3 separate regions of the Homo sapiens genome follow, and regions 2 and 3 are each linked to region 1. Evidence: fine-mapped expression QTL. A gene starts in region 1. Each other region holds a variant in brackets. All regions are shown on one strand. Distances are between the middles of the regions.

What was found.
Region 2: its variant is fine-mapped to the expression of SERPINB6 in whole blood (TOPMed, PIP above 0.99).
Region 3: its variant is fine-mapped to the expression of SERPINB6 in whole blood (GTEx, PIP above 0.99).

Annotation. Positions count from the first base shown.
Region 1 is chr6:2,970,559-2,973,319 of GRCh38, reverse strand. It overlaps SERPINB6 (serpin family B member 6), which reads left to right and starts at 1,753. Exons shown (of 7, transcript NM_004568.6): 1 at 1,753-1,787. RefSeq lists an enhancer at 1,448-1,972.
Region 2 is chr6:2,929,040-2,931,800 of GRCh38, reverse strand. No RefSeq gene overlaps it. Among named protein-coding and RNA genes, the nearest start is that of SERPINB9, 27 kb to the right of the region's middle. RefSeq lists an enhancer at 2,353-2,761. The variant TTTGA/A (reference allele first, on the strand shown) is at 1,672.
Region 3 is chr6:2,744,011-2,746,771 of GRCh38, reverse strand. All of the region lies in intron 2 of MYLK4 (myosin light chain kinase family member 4), which reads left to right. Among named protein-coding and RNA genes, the nearest start is that of MYLK4, 5.5 kb to the left of the region's middle. The variant T/C (reference allele first, on the strand shown) is at 1,716.

The DNA of each region.
Region 1 (2,761 bases):
GCCTAATTTTTTTATATTTTTAGTAGAGACGGGGGTTTCACCATGCTGGCCAGGCTGGTCTCGAACTCCTGACCTCATGATCTGCCTGCCTTGGCCTCCCAAAGTGCTGAGATTACGGGCATGAGCCACTGCGCCCTGCCAAGTAAGTTCTTTAGTGGTGATTTGTGAGATTCTGGTGCATCTATCACCTTAGCAGTATACACTGAACTCAAATTTGTAGCCTTTTATCCCTCACTCCCTTCCCACCCTTTTCCCCCAAGTCCCCAAAGTCCATTGTATCATTCTTATGCCTTTGTATCCTCATAGTTTAGGTCCTACTTATGAGTGAGAACATACAATGTTTGGTTTTCCATTCCTGAGTTACTTCACTTAGAACAACAGTCTCCAATCCCATCCAGGTTGCCAATGCCATTAATTCATTCCTTTTTATGGCTGAGTAGCATTCCACCGTATACGCATACCACAGTTTCTTTATCCACTCTTTGATTGATGGGCATTTGGGTTGGTTTCATGTTTTTGCAATTACGAATTGTGCTGCTATTAACATGCGTGTGCAAGTATCTTTTTTGTATAATGACTTATTTTCCTCTGCGTAGATACCCAGTAGTGGGATTGCTGGATCAAATGGTAGTTCTATTTTTAGTTATTTAAGGAATCGCCATACTATTTTCCACAGTGGTTGTACTATCCATCAGCAGTGTAGAGGTGTTCCCTCTTCACCAAATCCACGCCAACATCTATTATTTTTTGAGTTTTTGATTTTTTGATTAAGGCCACTCTTGCGGGAGTAAGGTGGTATCACATTGTGGTTTTGATTTGCATTTCCCTAATCATTAGTGATGTTGAGCATTTTTTCTTGTTTGTTGGCCATTTGCATATCCTCTTTTGAGAACTGTCTATTCATGCCAGCCCACTTTTTGATGGGATTTTTTTTTCTTGCTAATTTGTTTGAGTTTCTTGTAGATTCTGGATATTACTGCTTTGTCGGATGTATAGATTGTGAAGATTTTCTCCCACTCTGTAGGTTGTCTGTTTACTCTGCTTGACTATTCCTTTTGCTTTGCAAAAGCTATTTAGTCTACTTTTTTTTTTTTTTTTTTTTTTTTTTTTTTTGAGACGGACCAGACTGGAGTGCGGTGGCGCCATCTCGGCTCACTGCAGCCTCTGCCTCCCGGGTTCAAGTGATTCTCCTGCCTCAGCTTCCCCAGCAACTGAGATTACAGGCACGCGCCATTACACTCGGCTAATTTTTGTATTTTTAGTAGAGACGGGGTTTTGCCATGTTGGCCAGGCTGGTCTGGAACTCCTGACCTCCAGTGATCCGCCTGCCTCGGCCTCCCAGTGTTGGGATTACTGGCGTGAGCCCCGCGCCCGCCCCTGGCTGGCTTCTTTGCCGCAAGCTGTTTCATCAGCAAAGTCTTTGTGACCTGTATCTAGTCTGCTCATTTTTAAATGCGTGTTCTGCACTCCCCAGTGGATGGCCGTGTATCAGGAGCCGGCCCTTTTCTGGAAACAGGCCAGCATTCAGTCTCCACAGAGGCACCATAAACACGCTGGTGGGGCCCTGTACTGTGGTCAAAGTCAAGGCCTCCGGGCAGGACTCGCGGCCCCTCCGGCTGGCGGGTGGGGTTGACCCGCACGTCCCGCCCCGCCTCTCCCTTCGCGCTCCGGACGGGCGACGGTAGCTCGAGACCCGGGACTCCGCCCGCCTCCCCGCGAGTATTTGAGGTCCGGGGCGGCTCCGGCGCCTCTGCCCGCCGTTCTGCTCGCTCGCTCCCCGCTCTGGAGTACGTGTCTGGCTTGGGAGCCGCTCGGACACGCTGGCTTGGGTTTGTCGCTCCAAAGTCGGGAAAGCCGGGGGCGCGAGCGGGGAGGGGGGCAGGGTGGGGGTCGCGCGGGGCCGGGAACGCGCGTGGGTCGACGGCGCGCGGGGACGCTGGAGCCCCGAGAATGGGGCGTGGCCGCGCGGGGCTGTGACCCCAGCAGTCCCAGCGGGGCGGGGGCCCGGGCGAGCGTCCGGCTTGGGTTCCCTTCCGGAGCCTCGCAGCGGCAGAGAACGGCGACGCGGCCGGGTGAGTCGTGCGTGGCCGCGAGCCCGGCCGGTGACGCCGCGGACCCGAGGACCCCGGGCGCCCAGGCCCAGCGCCCACGGAAGAGGCGGCCGGCGCGGGATGGGGGCGGCGCAGAGCCTCCCGGGCCACAGGTGACCCCGGTCGGCCCCGCGGCCTCGGTGACCCCTCGCCCGCTCCGCGACCCGGAGGACGCGTGCTCAGTCTTGGGGCGCCGGGTGTTAGGAGCCGGGCGGGAGGCGGAGAGAGGCCGAGGGGTTCGGCGCCAAACGGTGCCATCCGGGCCCCCTGCGTGTGTTCACTGGACTGGCCGTGCTGGGCTTGGCCAATCCGCAGCACTTTCAGGTCGCCCAGACCTGTGGAGACGATCGTGTGGACCAGCCCGGATCTCCTTACCGCTCTGTGTTTGAATTAAACTCCCTACAGGCAAACTATTACAGGCTTTGATGTCTTCAAGGCAAAGAGGAAACTTTAACTACAAATTGGCATTTAAGTTATTTTCTTCCTTTTTTTTTTTTTTTTTTTTGTCCTAAAGATTGGCTTCGGAAAACTGAGGTACAGAAAATTAATAATTAATGTTCACATGCTGTCAGGAATACTCAGATGCGAGGGGGCATCTGAGTCCATTTTTTGGGCACTTTTGCTTTCTGGGATGCTCTCGTGCCTAATGACAGCCCTGCAGCTGCCTGCAT
Region 2 (2,761 bases), 42 kb after region 1:
GTGGGAGCTCACAGTACAAAGTAAAGACCTGCCAACCCCCCTCCTGTAGCTGTTACTAACAACACTTCATTGAAAATGAAAAGCCTGTGACAAATGCTGACCCAGGCAGGACACCAAGGCAACAGGTATAACTGGGACTGTCCCAGACAAGCCATGCTGTATGGTCATCCTGCTGACATGCCATATTCCAAGAGGAGATGAGGATTAATATTTCCTATTTAATTTTCCTGTCTGCATTGCATGCAGTCAGAGCACCCCAACAAGGAATGGATACATTTAGAAGACAAACAGGCCTCCCTAACTGCCACCCAACTCCTTGTCATTTAATACTTCCAGGTAATACCCCTGGAATTAATAGGGTTTCTCATTCGACAAGGCACTAAGGAGACGCTAATGGCAGCTTCCAGGTGGGATCATGTCCGAAACACATGTTTCTCTCACAAGCTCCTTCAAACAGAAAAATCCGACAAACTAATTAATATGACGCTTTTCGAATTGAGGTCCACCGGGTTCCACACATTCCTGGGTCAGCAAGCATTCTCCAACATTTCTCTTCAGTGGCCTGCTTTCATTTGCTAATGATCTTTGAAAAGAGGGTTGGTTAATTTGATATTTACATTTTTTTTTCTTTTGGAATAGCAAGAATTCCAAATGTAATGACCTGTTCTGTGAAAAGTGGCGATTAGTGGAATACCTAGCAAATATTTTTGAAAAACTGTAATGGATTGCCTTTGTAGGTAAAGATGCATCTTATTGAAAGAGGGTGGAATGATCATTTTAAAACATCTATTTGAAAGTTTTTCTTTCCCTTGTTAAATGATGTTATTGCTACAAAATGATGTTAAAACTCATATACTTATTTTTAACACTTGGAAATGTAATTTTATAACCTTTAAAAAACTCTTCCAAGGGCTGGGCATGGTGGCTCAGGCCTGTAATCCCAGCACTTTGGGAGTCTGAGGGGGGCAGATTGCCTGAGCTGAGGAGTTCGAGACCAGCCTGGGCAACACAGAGAAACCCCGTCTCTACTAAAATACAAAAAATTAGCCCAGCGTGGCAGCATGTGCCTGTAATCCCAGCTACTTGAGAGGCTGAGGCAGGAGAATTGCTTGAACCTGGGAGGCGGACGTTGCAGTGAGCTGAGATCGTGCCATTGCACTCCAGCCTGGGCAACAGAGCGAGACTCCATCTCAAAACAAAAACAAAAACAAACAAAAAACTCTTCCAAAAAGAAGAGGTTTGGTTGGTTTCAAATAATTAAAAATATAAATATATAAAATCTTAAATATTATAATTAGACATAGATTGACAATCAAACATCAAGGCTTAGTAAGCTTTTATCAATGTTTTTATTTTATTTAAATCAACCCATATAATCCCAGTGCTTTGGGAGGCTGAGGTGGGAGGATTGCTTGAGTCCAGGAGTTTGAGCCCGAAGCGAGCTATTGTTAGGGAAGCGGGAGCCCAGGAGAGCCAGAATAACGCCATTTTAAGTTCAGCTTCATCTTGAGACTAATGAGGCACATTCTTTTCCAGTCACCACCCATGGTCATAAGATATTTACACTTAAGGAAACAGCTTAAAGACACCTGCAGGGACACAGTCCTACAGCAACAGAAAGTCAAGATGTCCCAATGCCCATAGCAATATATGCTTTCAAGATAATTATTG[TTTGA/A]GACTCAGTCTTGCTCTGTCGCCCAGGCTGGGGTGCAAGTGGTGTGATCTCAGCTCACTACAACCTCTGCCTCCTGGGTTTCAGCGATTCTCCTGCCTCAGCCTCCCTAGTAGCTGAGACTACAGGCGCGCATCACCACGCCCGGCTAATTTTTGTATTTTTTAGTAGAGACGGGGTTTCACCATCTTGGCCAGGCTGGTTTTGAACTCCTGACCTTGTGATCTGCCTGCCTTGGTCTCCCAAAGTGCTGGGATTACAGGCATGAGCCACCATGCCTGGCTGCTTTCAAGATACTTGTATTTATGCTTTTACGTACATACACACTAAAACTAAAAACAAACAAAAAAACAAAACACAAGGATAGTTTTCTTTAAATCAACAGAATAATAAATTTTGTCATGCCTTCAGCCTACCCACACATAGATGTGGCTTAGCTTAGCTTTTACATAAACAAGACCTGCTACATAAGAAAAACTTAAAGATGAGTTCCTCCTCTTGCTTTCTGAGGACACTGTACTCTGTATCTGAGTAGCTTTCAATAAACAATGTCTTCTCACTGCACCCTGAGACTTGCCTTGAATTTCTTCCTGCATGAGATCCAAGAACCCTCTCCTGGGGTCTGGATCAGGACCTCTTTTTCTAGTAACACTATGATCGCACCACTGCAGTCCAGCCTGGGCCACACACTCTTGTGGGTTTGTGTGTAATTGTGTGTTGTGTATGTGTCCGGGAAATTGACTGTCTTTTTTTAATTAATTTATTTTTTTTTAATGGAGTCTTGCTCTGTCGCCCAGGCTGGAGTACAGTGGTGCGATCTCGGATCACTGCAACCTCCGCCTCCCAGGTTCAAGCAATTCTCCTGCCTCAGCCTCCCAAGCAGCTGGGACTACAGGTGCGCACCAGCTCTGGTGGTGTATTTTCAGTAGAGACAGGGTTTTGTCTTGTTGGCCAGGCTGGTCTTGAACTCCTGACCTCAAGTGATCCACTTGCCTCGGCCTCCCAAAGTGCTGGGATTACAGGCGTGAGCCACCGCGCCCAGCCAAGTGAATGTCTTTTGTGGGCACCAGACAGCGGGATTGGCTCCTC
Region 3 (2,761 bases), 230 kb after region 1:
CTTTTCTCTCCAGGGACTATAAAAACATGCTTGTCGATTTTCTCCACCTATTCCCCTTTCTCTCTCATCCCTTCTCTCTTTGAGGGGATTAGCACGGCTAATCATAGTAGAAACATCCCCTGTGGTGCACTGGAAAGAATGTACTCTGAATTTCAGACTCTGGTGACATGAAAGCTTTGTTCTGGAAGCTTGCAGTGCAGTTTCTTTAGAGTCTGGAACTACTCTCCAGTCCCAATAGGGGAAGAATTTTATATAGATTTAACAACTTATATTTGTTAAAATAGTTTGATAAAACTCAGATTCTTTTTGTTTTCCTGCTCTTAATCAGATTTTTCTATTTCTTTTATTTTTCTTCTACTGAATTCATTTTTAGCCATCTTCCTTCTTTCCTCTATGTTTTACTGAGTTTATGAAACACTTCATAGCCTTCTTTTCTTCCTTCTACTTAAGTAGTTCTTGTTCTTTTAATTTTTCTTTCTTTCTTTTTTTCTTTTTTTCTTTTTTTGAGACGGAGTCTTGCTCTGTCACCCAGGCTGGAGTGCAGTGGTGCGATCTCAGCTCACTGCAACCTCCGTCTCCCAGGTTGAAGCAATTCTCCTGCCTTAGCCTCCTGAGTAGCCGGGATTACAGGCGCACGCAACCACGCCTGACTCATTTTTTTTTATATTTTTTTTTGTATTTTTAGTAGAGACGGGGTTTCACCACATTGGTCAGGCTGGTCTCAAACTCCTGACCTCATGATCCACCTGCCTTGGCCTCCCAAAGTGCTGAGATTACAGGCGTGAGCCACCGTGCCCGGCCTTGTTCTTTTAATTTTTCTTGTTTGTTTGTTTCTTTTTTTTTTTTTGAGACAGCTTCTCACTCTGTCGCCCAGGCTGGATTGCAGTGGTGTGATCTCAGCTCACTGCAGCTTTGACCTCCCTGGCTCAAGTGATTCTCCTGCCTCAGCCTCCCAAGTAGCTGGGACTAGGCATGCACCACCACCCATGGCTACTTTCTGTATTTTTTTGTAGAGACAGGGGTCTCCATGTGTTGCTCAGACTGGTCTTGAACTCCTGTGCTGAAGTGATCCTCCCACCTTGGCCTCCCAGAGTGCTGGAATTACAGGCATGAGCTGCTGTGTGTGGCCTATTTTTCCTACTTTCCTTTTTATTCTGTTTTCTAATGACTTTTCTTATTCTATTATGTTCCAAAGGCTGTTCAAAATCACCTAAATTCTACCTACTGTGTAAAATTTTAAAAGTTTTCAGCAGATAACCATATGCCATAATAAACTAGATCTAAACATACGTACACGGTGTGGTGTTGAAATCAAGTAAAATTTACAAGACCAAATTGGTCTGACTCATATGAGTGATGAGCTCGATAGCTACTGTGTCCATACCATTAAGTTATAAATGATGAACAGGTTTCATAACTATAATTAGTATTATTTTTGTACAGTTGAATCTGGGTTTTTTTTCTTTTGTCAGTTCTCTGTTATCTATATAGTAAATAGCCCTCGTGTTGTATTTCCCCCAGATTTACTTGAATATTTAGTAGGATCTCTGTCTCATATACACCCCCACACCCCTTTGCTTAATGAAACACAAATGTGCCTGGTGATATTCTCAGCCAACCATTCGGCCCTGCGTGCTTCTCACTGCTTTCCTCGGTGTACCACCCCCATCCCTGCTCCTGAGGCCCGGGGTTGTCTGTGCTCTCCTCCTCCTCCG[T/C]TGGTTTTCCCCACCTGCCTGTTCACCCCTAGTTACTCATCCTCCATCCAAAAGGCATGGTCCCAAGTATAAAAGTAGGACACAGGTTGTGAATGCTCACTCTACAAAAATATGTCAGCATAGCCCACCGTTCCACATCCGCGCCTGGAAGACCCCTAAGCAAATCATTTCTGAATTTATCCTAACCCTTGTTGATTTGTGTTTGAAAGCCTTCCTTCATAGGGAATAATTCCTTTTTAAAACCTGGCTTAAGTTCTTCCATATCCCAACCAGGGGGTATCCCAAAGCTGTGGGGGTAGAAACAAGCATGGCCCCAGCAGACTCGGGACCCCACTGTCCCTGGAGTGTTTAAATGCCCGGTACAAATGCTCCCAAGACCAAGCAAAGCAAAATATTTATTAACAGGATGTGCAGAGGGACAGTGGGTTGGAGTAAAGTGTGGATTTTCCTATTTTGATTGCAGTTGGTGGATTTAACACCAGGTGGCATTTCCTGACCATCTGCTGTGAAATTGTACCATCAGCACCATCCGTAATGACTATAACTTAGATCTCAAAATAACAAGGCTGAGGGCAGAGGTTTTGTGATTTTTCAAGTTGCATTTCGCCACCTCCATCCCTGTGCTCCTCACCCTGTAAGGGCAGGAGAAAGCTCCCTGGCAGTGGCCCAGCCTCGGCAGCCAGCAGTTGCCAGATACAGTGGTGCTAATTGTCCTTGAACTGGGAACAAATACGCATTCACAGCGTCGTAAATTATTGCCAGCAGTCTCCCAATGCCCCTACACCTGTTTCAGATCTGTCACACAAGGCCATCGTATTTTTCCTTTTAAAGAGGCAGATTATTTGCTGATCACGTAACTGGAGACGTCCAGTGCAGGACTCTGCAAGAACCCTCTGTAATTCGGTGACACCCACTCCTCAGGGCAGAGCAAAGGGTGACACTGCTTGAGAAGTGCTGGTGCTAGATCAGGGCAGGGAAGGAACATATAAGCCAAGCAACATCCACAGCTGCTCCCAAAGAATGGACTTCACACTCAGAAGAAAAGA